Linked DNA regions of Homo sapiens: region 1 is linked to region 2. The links come from fine-mapping of genetic effects on gene expression. A gene starts in region 2. The other region holds a variant in brackets. All regions are shown on one strand. Distances are between the middles of the regions. Region 1 holds the start of LOC105373581 (a long non-coding RNA gene). Region 2 holds the start of STEAP3 (STEAP3 metalloreductase).

Region 1 (11,937 bases), 42 kb after region 2:
GAACCTTAAAAAACAACAGATGCCCCGCCCCAAACCAACTTAATCTGAATTTCTGGAAGTGGGGTTTGGGCACTAGTATTTTACCCAAGCTCCCCGGGTGATTCTAATGTGTAGCAAGGTTTGAAAACCACAGTCTAAAAGCCACAGACTGTTAAACTCTTGGGGATAAAGGGCATCACCCAGCCATCTTGGCAACACCAATAAGTCCACAATGAGGAGGGGTGGGAGGGCCCACAGTTAGTTAGGGCTGGGCACCTGGCTGGGGAACATCAGGGTGATTGACTTCAAGACTTACTCTTTTTTTTTTTTTTCTTTTTTTTTGAGACGGAATTTCACTCTTGTTGCCCAGGCTGGAGTGCAATGGCGTGATTTTGGCTCACTGCAACATCCACCTCCTGGGTTCAAGCGAGTAGCTGGGATTACAGGCATGCGCCACCACACCTGGCTAATTTTGTATTTTTAGTAGAGACGGGGACGGGGTTTATCCATGTCGGTCAGGCTGGTCTTGAACTCCCAACCTCAGGTGATCTGCCCGCCTCGGCCTCCCAAAGTGCTGGGATTACAGGCGTGAGCCACCGCACCCAGCCAAGACTTATTCTTGATGGTCAGTGCTGGGGACTTTTTTAACCACAGTCTTCCACACTAAGAGATTAGAATTTAGAAAAGTTGGGGTGGCTCAGAAGTTGCAGGGGATTTGGAATTCTTGACAGACACTTCTGGAAGTGGCAAGGATTTGCTTATGTGCAACTGACAGTCAAGGAGTCTTCTCTTTGGGAGGTGACCACATTAAAATGATAGGAATTCACTGTGGGTGACAGCATAAAGCCAATCGTGGCTTCCTCACTCTTCGTGGTGAGCCAGAAGTTGTTAAAGACTGGGCCAAGAAGATTCCAAAAATGGACACAAAGCCAAGAAGAACCAGAGAGGGTGAGGAAGGATAGAGAAGGTTTTATTTGGTTATTTTACTTGGGCCCAAGAATGTTGAACGTGAGAACCTGTCTGTGAAATTGTAGTGTGCAGCCATTGGAAAATGTTTATTATTATCTTTAGCAAAAGCTTTACAAGCAATTCTCCCACACCATGTTCTTTCACTCACTGACGTTCACTGTCCTGGTGTCTGTCCTGGAGCAGGAAATGAAGGGACACACACACACACACACCAGGGAGGAGCAAGAACGGGGCCCAATGTGGAATCAGACCCACTTAGAAACACTTCTGAGGGGAGTGCAAATGAGAAGCGTCTGTCAGCCGAGGCTCTGGATTGATGCCAACAAGCTGGGCTAGAAGGGAATCCAGGAGGCTCAGTCCATGCAGACCACCCAGAGGTCTCAGTGTGCCGCCACACTTAAATTACACCCTCGCAATGTCTCCTTGGAGAAAATGCATATGTGTTCATTGCTTGATGGGTCATCGCTATTTCCATCCCTGTGTAATAGACGTGGGAGGTCTCTCCCAAAGCTCTCAGTGGCTCACCAGTGCTAGCAGAATTCAGTCAGAGCACCCCTGTGCCACGACTCCCTCGCTCTCGGTGCCCTCTGCTGTGTCACTTGCCTGCCCTGTCTAGGGGACTAGATGGAGGCTACTGCAACTACTCAGCGCTTCCCCCTCTGACTTTAGCTTTGGAAATTACTTATCTCCCACTGAAGTTGATTAAGTCGCCTGCCCAGGGTTCATATCAGTTGAACCAGCACCAACAGTAGAACCTGCATCTCTTCCTTCGTGGTCCACGAGAACTCGTACATGCCAAGAGGCTGGAGTCATAGAGCAGCACTTCCCAGCCATTTTCACATTGCATCTCTTACAGAAAGTCATGCTTTGGGTGGTGGATCAGCCACTCTCGGCTGGAAGTGACCCACAAAAGCCCACACATTGTTCAAGGGGTGTGAAGCTCCATTGTAAAATGGCCGGGACCATTTCCATTTAGAGTTGGGATGGTCTCTTCTCCCAACGGTCACTAATCTCCTCCAGATGGAAGAGTAGGCCCAGCGGGGTTTCCACCCGGGTTGTTTATAACCCAGTGTGGGGTGGGAGGTGAAGGTCTAGCATGCACAGAGGGCATCTGTGTGGTGTTCTGGGGCTTTCTATACGGTGCCAGGTCACCCAGACCACAGGCCCCGTGAGTCCCCTTCGCTACTGGTGCCAAATCCACGTGCCATCTGTAAATTATTTACTCTGCATTTATCTTCAAGCTAATTTAAAATCAATCCACTTTTTGTCTGATCTTAACTTAGGCCAAATGTTATCTGTGAAATTATGATTTTGGTATGCAAGCAGACACTTGTTACTCTAATATACATTAAAATACACACATAACTAGTAAAATTTATACACACACACACACACACACATATACATGTATATGTATATATATATTTAGAGACAGGGTCTTGCTCTGTTACCCAGGCTGGAGTGCAGTAGTGCAGTGGCACAATCTTGGCTCACTGCAACCTTGACCTCTTGGGCTCAAGTGATCCTCCCATCTCAGCCTCCCAAGTAGCTGGGACAACAAGCACATGCTGCCACAGCCTGGCTAATTTTTTTGTATTTTTTGTAGAAACAGGGTCTCACTATGTTGCCCAGGGTGGTCTTGAACCCCTGGGCTCAAGCAGTCCACCCACTTAGGCCTCCCAAAGTGTTGGGATTACAGGCGAGAGCCACCGCAGCAGGCCTTAAATGTTTTTTAAACTTCTTTGAACTTAATTCCATCTGAAATCATCCAGCAGCCTCCAGAGATAACAAATAACAAAGTTAAGGAAAAAGCATGGTCATATAGTTATTGTATGGAATCCGTGTGAATTGGTGGGTCCTTAGACACCTTCAGCATAGAAGCATTATTCCCATTTTCCTGTTGTGGAAGCTGAGGCACAGAGAGTTGAGAGTTATCATAAGATCACACTAAGAGAGTGACAGGACTGGGGTTCCAACCCATAGCGGTGAGTACTAAAGCCACCCTCCTTCCCCTCCGCCAGGCCAGCAGATGAGTCGTTGGCAGGATCACTGCATCTGTCATCCCCTCGCCCTCACTCCAGCCTTTTTTTCCCTCCACAGTCCTCACTGGGCTTTGTGGCCCTCGTGCTGAGCACACTGCACACGCTCACCTACGGCTGGACCCGCGCCTTCGAGGAGAGCCGCTACAAGTTCTACCTGCCTCCCACCTTCACGCTCACGCTGCTGGTGCCCTGCGTCGTCATCCTGGCCAAAGCCCTGTTTCTCCTGCCCTGCATCAGCCGCAGACTCGCCAGGATCCGGAGAGGCTGGGAGAGGGAGAGCACCATCAAGTTCACGCTGCCCACAGACCACGCCCTGGCCGAGAAGACGAGCCACGTATGAGGTGCCTGCCCTGGGCTCTGGACCCCGGGCACACGAGGGACGGTGCCCTGAGCCCGTTAGGTTTTCTTTTCTTGGTGGTGCAAAGTGGTATAACTGTGTGCAAATAGGAGGTTTGAGGTCCAAATTCCTGGGACTCAAATGTATGCAGTACTATTCAGAATGATATACACACATATGTGTATATGTATTTACATATATTCCACATATATAACAGGATTTGCAATTATACATAGCTAGCTAAAAAGTTGGGTCTCTGAGATTTCAACTTGTAGATTTAAAAACAAGTGCCGTACGTTAAGAGAAGAGCAGATCATGCTATTGTGACATTTGCAGAGATATACACACACTTTTTGTACAGAAGAGGCTTGTGCTGTGGTGGGTTCGATTTATCCCTGCCCACCCCACCCCCACAACTTCCCTTTTGCTACTTCCCCAAGGCTCTTGCAGAGCTAGGGCTCTGAAGGGGAGGGAAGGCAACGGCTCTGCCCAGAGCCATCCCTGGAGCATGTGAGCAGCGGCTGGTCTCTTCCCTCCACCTGGGGCAGCAGCAGGAGGCCTGGGGAGGAGGAAAATCAGGCAGTCGGCCTGGAGTCTGTGCCTGGTCCTTTGCCCGGTGGTGGGAGGATGGAGGGATTGGGCTGAAGCTGCTCCACCTCATCCTTGCTGAGTGGGGGAGACATTTTCCCTGAAAGTCAGAAGTCACCATAGAGCCTGCAAATGGATCCTCCTGTGAGAGTGACGTCACCTCCTTTCCAGAGCCATTAGTGAGCCTGGCTTGGGAACAAGTGTAATTTCCTTCCCTCCTTTAACCTGGCGATGAGCGTCCTTTAAACCACTGTGCCTTCTCACCCTTTCCATCTTCAGTTTGAATGACTCCCAGGAAGGCCTAGAGCAGACCCTTTAGAAATCAGCCCAAGGGGGAGAGCAAGAGAAAACACTCTAGGGAGTAAAGCTCCCCGGGCGTCAGAGTTGAGCCCTGCCTGGGCTGAAGGACTGTCTTCACGAAGTCAGTCCTGAGGAAAAATATTGGGGACTCCAAATGTCCTCTGGCAGAGGACCCAGAAAACCACACTGGCTCCAACTTCCTCCTCATGGGGCATTACACTTCAAAACAGTGGGGAGCAACTTTTCCACCAAAGCTACAAACCTAAAATGCTGCTGCCCCAAAGCACAAGAGGGAAGAGCACCGCCGGGGCCACAGGACGTCTGTCCTCCAGTCACAGGCCATCCTTGCTGCTCCCTACTGACTCTAGCTTACTTCCCCTGTGAAGAAACAGGTGTTCTCGGCTGAGCCCCCAACCCTCTGCAGAACCAGGTTGATCTGCCACAGAAAAAGCATCTTTGAAGACAAAGAGGGTGAGGTCTTCATGAGTCTCCTGGGCCCAAAGCCATCTTCTGATGGAAGGAAGAGAGTAGGGCCAGTGAAGGCTGCCCAGAGAGAATGTCACAGATGAGGCTGCCCCTGCCCCCCCCCCGCCAGGGAGGTTTCATGAGCTCATGTCTATGCAGCACATAAGGGTTCTTCAGTGAAAAGCAGGAGAAGAGCCCACTGCAAGGATAGCTCATTAGGCACATGACCGATGCAGGGAAGGCCATGCCGGGGAAGCTCTTCCTGCAGGTATTTTCCATCTGCTGTGCCAAGGCTGAGCGGCAGAAACTTGTCTCATAAATTGGCACTGATGGAGCATCAGCTGTGGCCCACAGAGAGCCTTGCTGAGAAGGGGGCAGGTAAAGCAGAGATTTTAGCATTGCCTTGGCATAACAAGGGCCCATCGATTCCCTACTAATGAGAGGCAGGGAGAGCATGGGCAATGGAGACCCACCAATGATCCCCAACCCCGGTGGGTACTGGCTGCCTGCCCTGGGCCAGGGAATGGCTCCTTATACCAAAGATGCTGGCACATAGCAGAACCCAGTGCACGTCCTCCCCTTCCCACCCACCTCTGGCTGAAGGTGCTCAAGAGGGAAGCAATTATAAGGTGGGTGGCAGGAGGGAACAGGTGCCACCTGCTGGACAATCACACGAAAGGCAGGCGGGCTGTGTACTGGGCCCTGACTGTGCGTCCACTGCTGTCTTCCCTACCTCACCAGGCTACTGGCAGCAGCATCCCGAGAGCACATCATCTCCACAGCCTGGTAAATTCCATGTGCCTCTGGGTACAAAAGTGCCTCAACGACATGCTCTGGAAATCCCAAATGCCACAGTCTGAGGTTGATATCTAAAATCTATGCCTTCAAAAGAGTCTCTGTTTTTTTTTTTTAACCTGGTAGACAGTATAAAAGCAGTGCAAATAAACACCTAACCTTCTGCAAACTTCAGGCTTTTATTTCTGCCATGTAGATCACGTATCCATTCGTCCACTGACTCGAGAAGCCTTCAGCTTGGAGCCTGCTCTCAGGCAGGCAGTGTGCAAGGACTTGGGACTGCCAAGGTGAACACAGTGATCTGTGCTAGAGCTGGCCAATGAGGAAGGGCAGATGTGCAGACCTAAGGGACTAAGGGACATGCCAGGGAGGAAATGGGCAAGATCCAGGTGACAGAGTGTCGGGTGGGGGTGTGGGGATGTGAAAAGGTGGCTTCCTGGAGTGGTCTGAAGGCTGAGGCCTCGGTGCAGGTAAAAGCAGCAGAGCTTCTTGAATTATAATGTGCCTGGGAGTCACCTAGGAATGTGGTTCGAATGCGGGTTCTGATTTGTGGTCTGGGGTGAGGCATGAGACTGTGCATTTCTAATAAGCTCCTGGGTGACCTGTATGGTGATGATCCTCGGACACTCCGAGCGACAAGAGCTTAGATGGCATTCTTTGCCTCTGCTGTGCTTAGTCTATGGCACACTAATCTGTACACACACATCTCTGTCCCCTCAATCCTCCCCATGAGCCTGCATTCCCCTGGCAGCCCTGGCAAGGTACACGTCTGTACAATGCTATCTATGACCCCCGTGTTCTCTTAAAGGCAGAGGGAGAAACACTCCATCTTGGAGCCACAGCCTTGCACTTTGTGCTTCACGAGGGCTGCGGCACATTGGCCCTGGGTCCATCAGGAAAACAAAAGGAGCTCTCTTCAGAGACCACCCAACTACCATGCAGCCGAGCCTTCCTGCTGAAGCAACCAGACTGCCTTATGGTACAGGGCAAGGGGGCAAGAAACCCAGTGCAGAAAGTGGTCTAGTGGCTAAAAACCATTTCTTGGGAACAATAACCAAAATACAGCCCTGCCATTTTGAGTTCATTATAAGGATTTTCCAAAGAAAGAACCATGGCCAGTAAATACATTCATGACAAACAATTTTCAAGGTGAAAAGCATCTTGTCCTTGGAGGTTTACTTTTCTCCTCTGTGTCCTCCCATGCATAAAGCTGAGAGAGTTAACTTTACAAAGAAGTAATCAAATAGATGAAAAATACCCCCTACCAAGGTAGCCCATGTAAGAACTAAGGAACCACCAAAATCACGCATATCAGTTCAGGAGAGAAAGTTATCATTTAGCTGTTTGACACGTTGAATCTTTTCCAAAAGCAATGAAGCTAGCTCTTGGAGTGCAGAAGCTCTCTTGTGCTGGGCCACTTCCCTGGTCTCAACCAAGAGAGAG[T/C]TGGCTCCACTAAAGCAGAAATTCTCAGTCCCATCCACAATCACTGACTTCTTCTAACAAGTCTTCTGAAAATCTCTTTACTAATTTCTGAAATGAAATTCAGAAATAATATAACCTACCTATGCATATAATTTTTAAAATCAGTGTAAGGTCTAAATTGAAACATAAAGTAGAAATAATTTACACTAATACATATATAACATTAATAATGAATAATTATTATATTAATAGCCTTACAATAAATAAATTGGTTTTTAAATACAGTATATTCAACTAAACATTGTTGGCTCATTTGTAGCTGACATTTTAAGATAAAAGTGCGTGTGTGTGTGTGTGTGTGTGTGTGTGTGTGTACTGTGTCCACTGTGAGTGTTTGAAATTGTGTTGAATGCTATGAAGAAATCACATAGGGTGAAGACCAATAAATGTCAACTAGATTTGGAAACATGGAAACCTAATGGTGAGAATTTCAGTAGGATGTTGAGGGTAAAATCCAGATTGAGTATGAATAAGAAGGAAATGGAGACAGTAATACTGGACAACTCTTCTGAGATTTGGCTGTAAAGCAAGGGAAAGAGAAAGGATGGGTAATGGGAGGGGTATGTGGGGGTTGAAGGAGGGCTGGTTATTTTTTTCCATGGTTCTGACCTAAACATGTTTTAAATGCTTCTGGGGAATAAACAAGGTGAAAAGGAATGATGGAAGATGAGAGAGAGAATGATAGAGAATCACAAAGTCCTGGAGGACATGGGAAGAGATGGAGTGCAGAGTACAGGTGGCTTTAGAGGAGGAGATTGTCCTTTACAACTAGGAGAGAAGGGGAAAAGAAGTGGCTGAGTATTGAGGGGAGGGGCTAGTTGTGATGACACAGCATGTGACAGTTCCCTTCTGATGTTGTCTGTTCTTTTTAAAAAAACAGTCAATCCCTTCTGCTGAGAACAGGGGAGGAGGAAGGTTTGGCTCTGAGGGCTGAAGAGGGACAAAATGGCTGAAAATAATTGTTGGAGAAAATGTAAAGGGAGCAGACCAGAAAAACTGATAGGGTTTAAAAAACAAAAACAAAATTTGATTATAACCATTTTTTATCCAGAGTGAAATATACCAAATTGTGTTTCCTGGGAAGTGTGCAAAGTAGATTTTTGTTTAGTTAAATTCCATTTTCCCTCACCAGTTTCTTTAATAATTCTAGGTAGTTTGTCTTAGTTCAGTGTCATCTCTAATAGTCACTCAGAAATGCCTTGGCTTCATTTTTGTTTTCTCTATTCAGAAATGAACAGTCACAAATGGAACTTTGATGCACTAGGCAACCAAAAACTTCCATTGCCAATCCTCCCATAAAGTGAATAATCAACACTCTTGCTTATTGAGGGTTGATTGCATTTATTGGACCAGAAACCTAACTTATATCTATAATTCTCATATATGAAGAGTCTATTCTTAAAAATCTAATTTTAGCCAACATTTAAAACTTCTGCAACTAAAGAATTCATGTGGGCTTTTAACTTCCTGAAGGGTCTTCCTGCTTAAAACACAATTAGTTCCTAAACAAAAGACATACTTTTTAAGGCAATACTGAATTTGCAGGAAGTAAGGGAAATCATCAGGACAGAAAATAAATGGGAACACACACAAAAATCAAAAACAAACAAACAAAAAAAAGCTCTCCTTGGCTCCTGGCAGAAGCAAATGCAAGTCCTTTCTGAAGAAAAGCAACCTCAGTTCAGATCAACCAAATAAGAAGCTTAATATTTACAATTAATAAACCATAGGTGAGACTCAGTAGAAACAAAACCTGAAGGACTTCGAAGAACAGAATCGTCAAACATACGATAATGATATATTAAGTATCTAAAGAATTAAAAAATAGAGTTGCAAAAAATAAATAAGCAATAATATACTATAAAGGCACAGGCATGATGAAAAATGGAATTTTCAGAAATAAAAAATTGTCAGAAACAAACTTAATTTGGTGAGTTTAACAGCAGATTGGAGAAAATCGTGAATTTTAAAAGCTAAAAAAATTACCCAGAATGCAAAAGAGAGACAAATGGATAGAAAATATAAAAAAGTCATTAACAGAGATAAAGGTTAAAATGAACAACTATAACATACAAATAGCTGGAGTTCCAAAAGGAAAGAATGGTGAAGAGGCAAATTTTAAAGAGATAAAGACCAAGAATTTTCTAAAACTAGTGAATTACTGGTATCCAAAAATGCTGAAAGTGCAATGTATACCATCAGGCAGGAAAGCAAATTTAAAAGTAAAGCTACAGTTAGCCACACTAAGCAGCTCTTAAAAGCAGTCGAGAAAAATTATAAATGACCTACAATTGTGGAATTACAACAGACTTCTTAACAATATCAATGGAGATTAGAAAATAGTAGTCTAATATCTTAAAAGTTCAGGGGGAAGTGATTGCCAACTTAGAATTTTAAATCAAGCAAAACTGACTTTCAAGATTGAGTGCAAAATAAGAATGTTTCAGATTACAGAAATTGAGAGCTTACCAACAGTTCTTTTCTGAAGAACTTCTAAAAATATACTTCAGATAGAAAGAAAATGATCCCAGAGGGGAATCTGAAAACAAGAAGAAACAGTGAGTGAATAAGTGGTGACCCTCAAGGTAAATCTAAGCAAACCTTTTCTCTATAGAAGAAGAATATCTATGTAAGTGTTTTTTTTTAAAGGACATACTAGGCTGGGCACGGTGGCTCACGCCTGTAATCCCAACACTTTGGGAGGCCAAGACAGGTGGGTCACCTGAGGTCGGGAGTTGGAGACCAGCCTGACCAGCATGGAGAAACCCCACCTCTACTAAAAATACAAAATTAGCTGGGCGTGGTGGCACATGCCTATAATCCCAGCTACTCAAGAGGCTGAGGCAGGAGAATTGCTTCAACCTGGGAGGCGGAGGTTGTGGTGAGCCGAGATAGTGCCATTGCACTTTGGCCTGGGAAACAAGAGTGAAACTCCATCTCAAAAAAAAAAAAAAGACATACTAACTGGCTAAAAACAATGATATGTAAATAAGGGATTGAGTTAAAATGTTCTGAGGCTCATATTTGTTTAGAGGTTGGGGTTGGGAAAGTTATGGGCTAATTTAGATCTTGTTAAGTACATCTAGAAAAATGTCAAGGGTAACCATAAAAAGCTAAAAGTATAATGCCAAAATCCTTAGGAAGGGAAAAAAATTTTAATTGGATTTTTGAAAAACAAGAAACAAGAAAAATAGCATAGGTAAAGCAAGACACAGAAAACAAAAAGTAGGTATTAGAAAAAATCCACATATATTCATAATTGTGAAACAGAATACCATGCACTGGTATCAATCCTTATGAGGGGCACACCATATGTTGGATACCAGGAGAGGACTCTAAACACTTTGCCAATTTTTGTAAAGATTCCTGTATCTGGTGGATGCCCAGGTCTGGCAGGAGTCTTTACACAAACACAGCTTCTAAAGGTTTTGCACAAACCCAGCTGCCGGAGTCTGAGTCTGGTATGACAAAACACCTGCACAAGTCAGGCAAAGCCGACTTATTACTCACAGATATGTAGCAAAGATAGAAGCATAGAATCCGTGGGGAGCTGGTCCCCCAGAACTCAAGCAAGCTGCCCAGGGCAGACGGAATCCCATCTGCATATGCCCAACTTCACACTACAGCTGAGGGACCCTGAAAGCAGTCCACTCTGGATTTTATACCCTACAGGTACTTAAATCACTGAGCTTAAGCATTGCAGAGCACCTTGTTCTGAGAGGAACAAAGACAAAGCCCAGGCTGTTCTAGATGGTTCTTCCTTATCCCAGGATGTTACATTCTCAGTACATTCTGCCCAAGAATTGTAAGAAGGAGCAGGGAGAGCTGAATCAGCCAAGGTCATTCAAGGACTTGTCCTCCTGCAATAATCACAATAAATACAAATGGATTAAACACTTCAGTTGAAAGATAGAGATGGTCAGATTGGATTTTAGTTATATTTATAAGTGGCATACCTAAAGACTCAAGGTAAAGACATGGAAAAAAGTAAGTTAGGCAAAATCAAACTAAATTAACATTGGAGTGGCTAGATTATTATCATATAAAGCATATTTTATGAGAAAAGACATTATTAGGAATACAGAGAATTACTACATAATAATAAAATAAAGATTTAAATATTTTAGAATAATGTGCTTTTAATAATATAGCCTCAAAATATGTAAAGCAAAAAAAAAAAAAGAAAGAAATGTGAACAAATCCCTCATTATACTAAGAGATTATAACAAACAGACAATTATATGCATGTGTGCACATGTATGTGTGTATAACAACACAAGTTGGATATAATACGAAATAGAAAAATTATATTTTTCTCAAGAAAACAAATTGAAAACATATTATACCATAAAGCAAATTTCAATAAATTTCAAATAATAAGTATCGGCATTCTCTCAAGTGAGTGCAAGAAAGTTAGAAATCAAGAACAAAATGCTATATATATGTGTGTATATATATGTATACATACATATCATATATATGTATACATACATATATATGTATGTATGTATACATATATGTGTACACACACATATATATCATATATATATATTTATATTTTAGAGACAGGGTCTCACTTTGTCACCAGGCTGGAGTACAGTGACACAACGATCACAGCTCATTGCAGCCTCAAACTCCTGGGCTTAAGCAATCCTCCTGCCTCAGCCTCCTGAGTAGTTGGGACTACAGGCACACACCAGTGTGCTCAGCTAATTTTTAATACTTATTTTTTAGAGATGAGATCTTGCTATGTTGCCCAGGCTTGTCTCAAACTCCTGGCTTCAAGTAATCCTCCTGCCTTGGCCTTCCAAAATGCTGGGATTACAGGCATGAGCCACCATGCCTGGCCTAAAATGCTATATTTTAAATGTCTATACATTTTAAAGCTTTAAATACACATTTCTAAATAAGTCATTAATCAAAGAGAAAATTACACTGAAAATTCTTCAAAATTTTTAAATGTGAATGATTATTAAATAT
Region 2 (12,445 bases):
GGTGGAGCAGAGCCTGCCTGGAGGTAAATTTCCTTTGGGAACTGTCTTCTTCAGTATTTCCCTTCCTCTCTGAACACCGTTTCTTTTCCTTTCAGATTATCTGACAGCCTTTTAATGAACACCTACTAAGTGCCCAGCACTTTCCTGGGAACTTAATTCTTACAACCTGTTAAGAGGTCTATACACTCATTTTACAGTGGAGGAAATGGAGACTTAGCGGAGATGTGAAATTTGAACCAGGTCCGTGTGGTTTCAAAGCCTGCGCATGTTCCTTTACCCTATGGAAGCCTCCAGAAGCCAAGGTCTCATCTCCCCTCTTCCCTGGAGGCCCCAAACCTGGGTAGCTGTGCCCCTAGACCTTTGAGGGAGGGTCTCGAGCCATTATCTCCCTTACCTTTTCTTGCAGTGACTTGGCTTCTCCCAGGCTGCCGTAACCAGCAAACGCCTAAAGATGGCTCTGAGACGATGGCCTTCTGTGTGTGTGTCCATGAAATCAGGTAGTACACCACACAGAACCAGACTCTCAGTGACATGCCTGATATTCCACAGACCTGCATCCGAGCTGTGCAGATCTCAGGTAGACACAACCAGTGATTGGGGATGGCTGGTAGGATCTTGCCTAGGCAGGCCAGGGAGCTCTGTGAGGAGTGTTTGGGAGAAAATCCCCCAGGTTCATCTCCCTGCATGGACTGCCCCTGCTGGGCCCTCACACTAAGCTGGTCCTGGTCCTCAGTACTGAGGGATCACCACAGGTGTGTAGGCCACAGCTCACAGGAGCCCTCCACCTAGCGGGTCAAAGGTAGTGGAAGATCTGAGAGTCAGGCAGACCTGGTCCAAATCCCGGATCTGCCATTTCCTCACTGCATGATACTAAAAAAGTCACTTCTTCATCTGAAAAATGGGGCTGATCCCACCCATTCTGCAGGGTCTCAGTGGGGATTGAAGGGGGCTGACCTCAATGTAGCACGATGCCTGCCCCAGGTGGGACTTCAGCAAACTCTCTTTCCTTTCCCTTCCCTCCCCTTGAAGGCCAAGACCAAGGAAACAGAATTGGGCATGCCAGAACATATCCCAGCCCTGTGGGGTGTATTTACCTCCACTTCTGATCACAGTGTGTTTGCGTATGACCTTGAGGCCAGTGACTTTTACACCTTGCCTATGCTGGGCTGGGCTGTGACTTGGCTGTGACTTGCCTGCCCTGAAGCCAAGCCTCAGCTGACATGTGTCTTTCCACCACCCCTGCTGTGCTGAGTGAGCACCAGCCACCTGTCCCATTGTTCCTGCCCCAGGCTGTGTGTGGAGAGTGGTCTGACAGGGCAGACAACACCCTACACTCCAGATGTGTTGAGGTGAGCTCTGGGGGTCAGGAAAGAAGCAGGGAGGGGCACAGTGTGAACATCCTGTGCAGATTTCCCCCCAACTGGCCCCCCAGCTGGTTGGGTTTTCTTTTCTCAGTAACTCCTGGCAGAAGTCCAAGGAGGCCTCCTTCTCCCAAACCCTCTGTCCTTGGCTCAAAAATCCAGCAGAGGACGTGCCACGACCACGAAAGGTGACAGCAGTCAAGGGGAAAGAGGACTCCCTTACTGGAGTGCACAGAAGTTTCCTATTTATTTTGCTTACGCGGTTGACTTTTTCCAAAGGCTGCTTGGGACGGCTTACCTCGAAAAGCTTAGCAATAAGGCTAGTAGTAAATCAGACAAAAAAATCATGGACTGGGGGAAAGAAAGTAGCATTTAAATATATTTAATAAGGACGATATAGTCGTGAACATGTGCCTGAGTATCCTGGCTACCACAGTAAAAGGGGAAATATGATCAGTTATGGGAAAAGAGTAAAAATATTAATCATGATTTTTTTTTTCTTGGAGCTTTGTGTAATAGGCACTGATGTTGAAAAGGGTAGAGTTATTTTTCCATATTTGTAGAAATTCAGAAGATTATCAGACTATTTGCCTCACAAGGACTTTTTAGCAAGCAAAAAGTATGATATTGTCATGCACCCTGGTGAGGGGAAGTGTCATCCAGTTCTAGGTTTCTGTGAATCTACCTTGATGCAGGTGTTCAGGGAGTAGTGAGTTTCCTCAGTTGTAATGTAGACCAGCGCTTCTCAAACTTAAACACGTATACAACCTCCTAGGGGGTCTTGTTAAAATGCCATTCTAATTTGGGAGCTTTGGGGTGGCCTGACACTCTGCCATTCTAAAACCCTCCCAGGCCATCATGATCACCACCTTCCGAGCAGCAAGGGGTTAAAACCCAGGCATCTCCCATGATCTAGTAGTGAGTGCCTTTCTAATCGCCCCCAGCTGAAAGGCAATGCAATGTTATCATAGACGGGCAAGAAGAATCTCTTCCTTGGCTCTGTAAATGCTTCCGGGATGTGCTGGGTCAGCCTCCCTCCATTCTGGTTGGCGATCTTGGTCTAGTCACAAGCCAAGACCGTTGATCATACACAAAAGTTTAAGTACCTACTACGCGCCAGGAAGCTCCCTCAGAAAGATGGTTGGTCCTGCTCCCCCACCCACCCTCCACCCTGGCATCTTTTATCCACTCTTCCTTCAGCAACTGCCTTTATCAATGCTCCCTTGAGCCAAAATAAACAAATAAAAAGCAACTTCCTTTGGAAGCTACTCCATACTCTTGCGCTGGCCACAGTTACATCTCCCTGCAGATACACAGATTCTCATGACACAGAGCTCAGACAGTGCTTCCTCTCTGGAGGGCTCATGTTTCGAGAGAAGACTGGAAGGAGGACAACCTTATGCTCCAGTAGAATTCCAAATTCTGGGGTGCAGGGACATTTCGTGTGTGTATGTGGAGGGGGGGGTGTCCTAATGCCCTGTAAGCCACACTTTATAATGCTGTACAATATTGGGTCACCATCATGGGCCATGGAAAGCAGAATCTGTGAGGTTCAGTCCCAGGCTCCAGCACCCCTTTGTCAGCTGGCCTCCCCGCTCAGTGCCCTCTCCCACTACCTGCCCTGCCTCAGCTCTGACTGCTGCTGATGTGCCTCCACCCATCAGGTCATTGTGATGGCAAAGACAATGCCTCCATTTGCCCTGAATGCAGCCTTACATAGGAAAGAGCTTCCTGTGCTCCAGAACTTGGAGGAGTCCTGCAGCACCTGGTCTAGTGGGGAGAGCATCAGTGGGGAGCGGCACCTTTCCTGCAGCCACGGCCCACTGGGCAGGACCAGATCCAAGTGGCCTGGCTTCTGGCTAGGGTGTCAGAGTACATTGGGGCATACAGCTTCCCGTGGCCATCTCGTTTTCATGGAGGATTTATTTTGTGAAGTGGACCTGCTCTGTCCCATCCTATAAATGCTGGATTAATCCAAGAAGCTGAGGGTGAGCAACATCCCTCTCCTTCCTGATCAAATAAGAAATAAATCTAGATTTTCTCCTGGATGCTATTCTCTTCTTAGCCAAACAGCTAACCTTGTCTTCAAGGAAAAAGGGCAATCCCAGGGGCTCTGTAAATTGAATATTCAGCAACTCCAGGGGCAGACATCCCTAAGTGCATAAGTGGAGCACCCCTCTGAATCAGCATCACACCAGCTGGGGGCATAAAAAGGAGAGCAGAGTAGGCAGGAGCTGTGGGGACATTTCTGAGATGCTAAAAGAGGCAAGGAAGTGTGAGGACGGGTGTGCATTCATGCAACAGGTATTTACTGAGCACCTACTATGAGCCAGGCAGTGCTCTATCCATTAGAGATACGGAATTGAATAAAACATAAAAATCCCTGCCCAGGAGGAGCTCACATTTCTATGGGAGAAGACAGTTACTGAAAAACAGTCCAAAAAACTCTATTTTATAGTGTGTTCAGAGGTAATACAGGCTATGGGGAAAAAAAGAAAGCAAGCAGGTACATGGATGAGGAATGGGGGCGATCAGCGTGGGCCTCACAGAAATGATGACCTTTCAGCCAAGACTTGGAGGAGGTAGGGAGGGTACCTGGGGATGCCTAGGGTCCAGGCAAGGGGAACGGCAGGGGTCAGGATCCTGTCAGATTCATCTGAGGTGGGACTGAATGTGAGCAGAGAGAGGGAGACAGAGGATGAGGGCAGAGAGAAGGCCAATCACACTGGGCCACGGCTATTGCAAGGACTTTACTTTTGCTGGGGGAGGGGGTAGAGTTTTGAGCAGAGGAGAAATGCGATCTGGCAAACATCTTGCAAGGATGGCTCTGACTGTTCTATCCTTGGCAGAGGACACCAGAGTCTGGCCCATAGAAGGTGCTCAACAAAGCTCAGCACATTGCACTCCTCCCTGGAGTAGGAAAGGGCTCGTCTGCTTTGGGAAATTTGGCTCTCAAGCTTCTGGAAACACCTGACCCCATGCCAGGTGAGACAAGCTCACACTCAAGGCCCCCTTAGTCCAACGGTCAGTGGACAGAACAAGCACCAAAGGTCAACGGCGTGGGCGGTGGCCTCTCTGCCAAAGTGTGTGGGCCCAAGTAGGGTATTCACCTCCCTCCCTGTCTGTGAGAAATTTCAGACCCCTCTACTTTTTCCAGCAGGAGTTCATGTTCCTTTTAAGATAATCCTCTATAGACCTCTGGCAGCCCAGCCTTCAAAATGTCTCCCCCTGTCTCTCTTACTCATGGAGAGCCCCGCTTCCCCGCCTCAAAAAAAAGTCTTCCTCTCTCTTACTCATGCATGGAGAGCCCCACAAAAAGACACTGGTTCCCAGGGATTCTTCCAAAGATGCTGGAAGACCTCTCAGTGTTTGCATTTCCCAAGCTCGGTTTCCTTGTGCTGTCCTTGGGCATTAAAGGAAGGCTATTCAGCCATCCCCATCAGCAGGAGCAGGCATCAAAAGAACAGCTACTGCAGGGGGAGCATATTAGGGGCACCAGAGGGGGCTAGGAACTGGGTCTTGTCTTCTCAAAGTTTACAACCCACTGCAGGGGCCACTCACCAGCCCTGGCACCCTAAGGGCAGGAACCTCCATTGGGCACGTGTGTCTCCAGCACTGGGAGCACTGTCTGGCACCTGGGGCACTGTGAGTGTTGAATGGATAAAGGACCTGTAAGAATTGCCATAAGAGGTGTTGCCCTGGGGCAAGGTGGGACAGGAAAGTTCTTGCAAGAGAAGAGAGGCTCTGGCCTTGGGCCCTGGCTGAGCAGAGAGCTGGGAGGTGGGTATTCGGGTAGGAGGAAAGCTGTGGAGGGGGAAAGCAAACTGCCTGCGGGGGTGGGGGGGTTCTCGGCGGGAGTTGGGGGTGGAGGGAAAGGCGCTTTACAGCAGCACTCCCTCCACAGGGAGACCAGAGCTCTGCCTCTTCCTCCCCACCGTGCCCTTTGGGGTCCAGTTGTGGGGCCTTCCTTGAGGCCCAGCTCCTGCCTCTGGCCTCCGGAGGCTTATCTCCCCAACAGAGGCTGGCTCCCCAGAAAACAGGATTCTTAGACTTCCTAAAAATAACCTGAAGCTCCTTATCAGAGGCTAATAGTGTATGTCTCCCAGGAATACTCTAGAAAGAGTACCAGGGGTCAGGAACCCCCACTCAGCCTCCACGAATCTGAGCGGAAAAGCCCGGGTCTCCTCACCTGTAAAGAAAATAACTGCAGCCGGCAAATGTGACCACAGGTGAGAAGGGGCTTCGGACCAGGGCGCACACCTCTAGAGAGGTGCCCACAGACAGCCTCCCCTTACTTACGCCCTGCTTCGCTGCAGTGCTGTGAAGCCATCGGCATTGGAAGTGCGGAGGGCAGCGGGCAGTGCCCCAGGGGGAAGGGGGGACGGGTAGGGTTTCAGAGCCCAGAAGGCCTAGACAGGGAGGCAGCTCCGGGAGAAAGGTACCCGCCATCCCACCGGTCTTGGAACCTGAGGACTGCTGGGAAGGGTCAAAAGTCTGCCCTAAGGGTGGACAAGGGACAGAGATTGGGGGGGGACCACAAAGGCCTGGGCGCAACCTTGTTGAGAGGGAAGGGATCCGGACCCAATCTGGAGCCCTGGTCTCTTCCCACCTGCAACCGTGGCTGCCACTTGGCCTCGGTTATAAAATGGACAAGGATTCGAGGTGCTCCTCAGGTTAAGAGAGGGGGGCCTAGAGGTCACCCTGGCCTCGGTGCCCTCCGTGGCCGGGTTAAGAGGAGGTCCCGGAGTTCTGCTCACTTCAGCCGTGTGCCGGGCACTGCAAATCAGGAAGTGTTGGCGCCGGCTGGCGACCTCCCGCCTGGGGCCAGGGGAGGAGGGTGGTTGGACGCTGCCACCGCTGCCGGGGCTGTGCAGGGCTGGGCGGGGAGCGAGGACCCGGCGGCTCCTGATTGCGGCCCCGGGGGAGGTGGCCGAGCCGGATAAGCTGCGGCGGGCTGGAGGGCGGCCACCTCCCCTGCAGGTCCGGCCCTCCCGGGCGGGTGGGGCGCGGGGGAGGAGGAGCCTCGGGCCGAGCCACCGCCTTCGCCGCGGACCTTCAGCTGCCGCGGTCGCTCCGAGCGGCGGGCCGCAGAGGTGAGTGTACCCTCCCCCGGTCTCCGCGGGGCTGCGTGCTGCGCCCGGTCCCCGAGACGCCCGCCCGGTTGCACCCTGCGCCGTCGCTGCGCGGACCTCGGGTGCCGCCACACGTCTGGAGGCGACTTCTGTCCCCTGGGACCGAGCCACGTGCGCCCGGCGGCAGAGAAACCGGGTTCCGGGGCCCCCACCCCGTGTGCCTTCCTTCCCTAGGCGTGGAAGCCGCTTGCGCCGCGCAGGTTAGGCAGGGCCGGCGGCGACAGTGGCGGGGAGCAGGCTCCGGAGCCCCGGGTGCAGATGTGGGCGCCCCTCCGGATGACCCCGGCTGAGTCCACAGGTCCCGTGTGCCCCACGGCTGGGGCTCTGGCCAGCGGTCCCAAAGGAGGGCTGGTAGCTGTGGGCGGGGATCTTCCAGGCTCTTCCTCGCCAGACCTCCCAGTCCCTTCGCAGCCGAACAGGGCAGGGACAGGGGCAGGTGCAGGGGCTGGGCAGGGGCGCCCGACCTTGGTCCCCAGGAGGAGGCTGGCCTCACCAGTGCCCGCCTCTGCCCGCGGAGCCCTTGCCTGGCAAAGTTCCCCCTCCTGCCCGGCAAAGCTCCCCCTCCTGCCCACTTCCCCGAAATTTGGGGACAGGCTGCCCGGAGAGGTGTGGTTGGAACTTTGGTCACTCTGGGTAAATGAAGGGGAGGGTGTGCCCAGATAATATGCGGTTTGGGGACCAGAAAGCCGGATCCGTGGGGAGAAGCAGGAAGGTCCCGCTGGAGCCCTGGCAGAGGGCACAGAGAGGCCTCCCAAATATCCAGGGCCACCTCAGAGATGGGCTCCAGAAGTGGGGATTCTGGAAATGCCCCCAGGGAGGTATTTCTGTCCATCAGAGTGCAGCCATAATATAATTAACAGCAGATATTCCCATTTATGTGTGCCAGGCATCTTGCTAAGGGCTTTGAGCACAATATCCCAGTTAATCCTCACAACAGGAAGGCACCATTATCTCTTGTTAAAAATGGGGAAACAGCCTCAGAGAGTCCACGTATTTTGCAAGGATACACAGCTAGGAAGTTGCAGAAGTAGAATTTGAACCCAGAGTTATCTGACTTGGAGCCCAGAGGAACCTACCACTGGGGCGAAACAGGCTGTGTCCTCACGGGGATTCTGGCAGCCCCAAGAATACAGTGCTGAGAGCCAGAAGGTCCACAAAACCAAAGGGTCTCACCTGGGTGTGTCCTCTCAGTCACCTGCAAGGCTTGTTAAAAATATAGATCCCCAAGTCCCATCCGAAGCTGACTGAATCAGCTAGGGGCACCTGGAGGACCCAGACTATGTCTTACTCATCTCTGTCCCTGGTGGCCTGCAGAGGGGCTGGCAAGGAGCAGGTGCTTAGTGAATGTCTAATGGGTAAGTGGGCGGGGTGGGGTAGATGGTGTCACTAGTGTCCTGAAGGGGGCTTAAATGGAGCAGGTGGCCTCAGCCAGGCAATCCGGCAGCAGGTATGGAAGTGACACAGTCTAATGCTGGCCTCAGAGCCAGCAGGGAGCTCAGGCTGGGCCACTTGTCCACCTGGGGGTTGAACAGCCTGCCCCAGGTTTGCTGAGGTCCCCAGGACCAGGCCAGGTCAAGCTGGGATCACACATGTTCCCTCTCCAGCCTAGAGATGTCAAACAGGTAGATTCCTCTCCCATTCATATCTCCTATCCTTGGCCCACAGCCCTTCCCTTCTTGGACTTATCAGAGACCAAGGTGCTGGGCAGGGCTTCAGGTGGTTAAAAAGTGAAAGTTCTTGAGTGAAGTCCAAAGGCGCACACCTGAGAGCTGAGTGGGCAAAAGGTCGCTGGCTGAGTGCTGGGGATAGTCTGGCTTTGGAGTCAGATGGACGAGTCCAAATCTCAGCTCCTTACCCCGTAACATGAAGCCCTCAGCTCTCTGAACCTCTGTTTATTTGCAAAACCTTGCCAAGGGCTTCAAACAGGATATCCTCATAAAACAAGTATGCCTATTTGGGGGACTAAGTGTGTGAAGTGCTGAGTTTTAGGAGTGCAGTAAATATCGGATCCCTCCTTCTTCACCTCAGGTTTGCGAGTTAACCAGTGAGGGGCCTTCCAGGCCTAGTGCTCTTGTAGACCGAACCACTAGCTTTCCTAGAGAAGGCAACTGAGGCCTAGAGAGTGGCCTCCAGGTTCCGTGCTCTGTGGCAGAGCTGGCCTTGGCTCCAAGTCCCAGGGTTCCCAGCTCAGTCTCAGCTGATGCCTCCCAGCCTGGCGGTCTACGCTGCCTGCTACATTCCCTGTCCAGCTACAAATGAACAACTGAGAGGGCTGGGGTGAGATTCAGGCAGGCTGGGGCAAGGGAAGGAAGCAGGTCATTTGGGGAGTCGGGCTCTCTGGTCTTCCAGCTGAGGCTGGATCCACTCTTTCCTGTCCACCCACGGTGCGTAGTGGCCAGGTCTTCCTGAGCTGAGCAGGTTGAGCACTATGAAACTGCTTTCTAGCATCTAGACCAGGGAGTTGCCTCTTGATTTAAAATGAGGATGTTTACCAGTTTAAGTAGTTATTAAAACCTAAGGCCAAGTTGGTGCCTTTCCTCCCTCTAGGAGTTGGAAGGGTGTGTGCTTTTTTCTGCTCCTACCCCACCCCTGCCAAACCATCCCAATTTGAGAGGCTGTGGAGATTACAGAACTTGGAGAGGAGAGGGGCAGGGATCGGGGTTGGAGACTAGATGGTTTTCAAACATTGGGCTACAGAAGTCCCTCTTCCTCCCATCTGTCTCCTGCAGCTGGGTCCACCCACCTGTCCAACACAGCCTCCCACAGGTCCCGGGCCTCTTTGTGCTCCAACCGTCACATCCTTGGCATGCCACACACCCTCACCATCCTGCCTGAAATGCCAGTCCTCATCACTGACATTCAGCCTCCCATGTGCCAGCATCCGGGCCAAACACTTTATCTACAGGAGCTCATTTGTACCTGGAGACTCTTAGGAGGTCGATAATGTTATTCTCCCAACCATGTGACTTTCCAACTCCATATGGACCCCAACCTCTTTTTTTCCACCCCTAACCTGAGACTCCTAGCCACTAACTAACTGCCACATTCTCCTGTCCAAATTCTGCCTCATCGGTTATTCATTCAACAAACACTTACCGAGCACTAACTTTGAGCCAGGCACTCTAAGACCAGCTGAGTCCCACTTCTGGCAGGATGAGTGTTGTTGTCATCAACCACCCCACAAACACCCGTGCCCTCTGCGTACTTGCGAATCTGAGTGAGGAGACACGGTGGCAGTAAGGCTCAGGACCTATAGCTCATGTGAGTGAGCAAGGATGCAAAACCAAAGACACCCGCTCCCCTCACCCACTGAGCTGGAGGGATCAACCACTGTGCCTGCCATCAGGGCTGATGGGCGACTGCTTGTGGATCACAAACTCTTGCGTTGTCACTTCAACCCAGGGGCAGAGTGTGTTCCTCTTCAGGTGTGGCCTGGTCTCGTGAGCCCTGCACTGAATGGGCCAGGCGTTCATTGCTTCAGCACCGTAAGAACACTGTCACCGGAGAATTGTTCGATACTCAACTCTTCCCAGTCAGTCTGTCTTCTGCATGCCCACAGTTACCGGGCAGCGTGGGCAACAAGTGAGCACTGATTGTTCCGCAATCAGGCTGTGACTTACTCCATCTCTGCCTTCTGCTTAATGAGAGCCAGGTGGGAGTTCAGCAAAGATCACATGTTTAAGCCTTGTTATTAAACACGTTAAAAAAATACTGCCCCAAGATTATAAAGCCGACTTCGGTACATATAAAGAGATTTGGGGTCGGTGAATGGGCCCACTAAGCTTTATTTTGTGGTGTCAGCTGTCTTGGTTCATGTGTAGACAGCAGGGCTCCCAAAGCCAGCATGCTGGGGTCTGTGAGGGAACAAGCTTCCCATTTCTTGTATTTATTTATTTATTTATTTATTTATTTATTTTTTGGAGACAGAATCTCGCTCTGTCACCTAGGTTGGAGTGCAGTGGTGCCATCTTGGCTCACTGCAACCTCTGCCTCCCGATTTCAAGCAATTCTCCTGCTTCAGCCTCCTGAGCAGCTGGGATTACAGGTGTGCTCCACCACACCCAGCTAATTTTTGTATTATTAGTAGAGATGGGGTTTTGCCATGTTGGCCAGGCTGGTTTTGAACTCCTGACCTCAGGTGATCCACCTGCCTCGGCCTCCCAAAGTGCTGGGATTACAGGTGTGAGTCACCACAGCCGGCTGCTTCCCATTTCTATAAGCATCCGACTGGTGGGGTGGCCAGTAGGCTGTGGGGAGTGGTGCGTGATTTTCCTGGTGGGCTTGAGAGAGTAACAGTATACCCCCAGTCAGGGCAAGTGTCTCTCTGAAGGTGAACTCTGGGTGCACAGCTAGAGGATACAGTGGCTGTGAGCTGGGCCCTCCAGGTGAGGTCTGGCCTGCCCATTGCCACAGTGGGCTTGCTGGCATCCAGGGGGGCTTTCTGGGTGACTGCCCAGGCCTGCACATGAGTCAGTAGCACGCTGAATGCAGTGGAGTTTGAGGGGACCCACCACTGTCCATCAAATCGCCCCAACCTGGGTGAAAGGCCAGAGCAGCTGCGGGAAGTGACACCAGGCCCTCTGGAGATGACCCTCTGGCCCTTGGAGATGTCTCTGGACTGGCCAGAAAGAAGGTGGTGCCTGGAACTGGAAGGGAAGGAAGCAAGACAGTGCTGGGCCCAGCAGCCAGAAATCAGGGTGATGGGTGGGTGGAGGGGCAGGCATCTGGGAAAGCCCTGCCCTCCTGGTGTTCCCAGATCTGAAGGCTGGAGGCTGGAAACCTTGTGTCACCTGTGCTGGTGTGAGTTCCATTGGGGCTGCCGCTTACCCTCCCATGACCTTTAACATCTGGCATGGCTTGTGGGGGGTGCTGAGAGGAGGAGAAGTCTCAAGGCTGAGGGAGCTCAGGGTAGAGCCAAGGTCTCAGTGAGAACCCCAGGGGGCAGCTGTCACAGCTGACCTGGAGCCCTCCAGGAACGCGTACTCTCCAGCTCCTGTACTCTCAAAAGCAACAGAAAGGTTTGCTTTCCTCAGGTGCGGTTTCCTCACAGTGCAGCTTCTCCAAAGAGATCTGGAGACCCCCCAGCAGCTTTGACAGGAAAATAGAGTCCTATCCACCCCACACCAACACACTGAAGTAGAGACTCTGGGCCTGGGGCTGCCCAGAAACCCACCCACTTAAACTGCCCGGGCGATTCTGGTGTTCACAAATATTTGAAAGCACTGCCTGACACCTGCTGGCTCAACAGGTGTCCACCTAGGCTGGAGTACAGTGGTGCCATCTCGGCTCACTGCAACCTCTGCCTCCCAATTTCAAGCAATTCTCGTGCCTCAGCCTCCCGAGCAGCTGGGATTACAGGTGTGCTCCACCACACCCAGCTAATTTTTGTATTATTAGTTCACCTAAGCAGAGAGCGATGTGAGGGGCTGTGAGGATGTGCAGGGGTGGAGGGCACTTAGGTCCCTCCCTCAGCTGACCATAGAGCACCCAGAGTGGCAGAGGGGCCACGTGCAGTGAGTGGCCACAGCAGAGCAAGGAAAGGTGCACACAAGAACAGTCCTAAGGAAGACATGTGTTTAGGGGTTTCATATTCACTGTTTAATCATCAGGACAGAGAGGGAAAGCAACCTACCCAACGTCACACAGCTAGCACATGGCTGGACCGGAATTCACACACATCTCTGTCCAGCTAGGTCCCCCAACTAACACAGCTGCCTGTCTGAATTCAAAGCCGGGAGAGATTGTCAGGGGTGGGCGTTGGGGGAGATGGCAGGTGCCTTAAGTGCCCAAGGCCTTGGGCTGGATCTTTAAGGAAGGGGGATTGGGATGGGCCAGGAGGTTGTCAAGATTGGAGATGGAAAGAATGCCATTGGCTGTGGTGGGGGGTGGAGTGGGCAGGGACTGGAAGGAGGGGTAGTGGAAGTCAGTCCCTGCCTACAGGCCTGTGTTAGA

Evidence for each region. PIP is the estimated chance that this variant, and not a neighbour inherited with it, causes the effect.
Region 1: its variant is fine-mapped to the expression of STEAP3 in whole blood (INTERVAL, PIP above 0.99).

Annotation. Positions count from the first base shown.
Region 1 is chr2:119,260,009-119,271,945 of GRCh38, forward strand. STEAP3 (STEAP3 metalloreductase) reads left to right here. Exons shown (of 6, transcript NM_182915.3): 6 at 3,049-5,644. The coding sequence ends at 3,330. It overlaps LOC105373581 (a long non-coding RNA gene), which reads right to left and starts at 10,998. Exons shown (of 2, transcript XR_001739666.3): 1 at 10,666-10,998; 2 at 5,617-9,496. RefSeq lists an enhancer at 1-181 and a silencer at 5,316-5,415. The variant T/C (reference allele first, on the strand shown) is at 6,919.
Region 2 is chr2:119,217,435-119,229,879 of GRCh38, forward strand. It overlaps STEAP3 (STEAP3 metalloreductase), which reads left to right and starts at 6,400. Exons shown (of 6, transcript NM_182915.3): 1 at 6,400-6,454. RefSeq lists enhancers at 64-1,263, 634-1,230 and silencers at 1,439-1,733, 6,143-6,922, 6,983-7,052.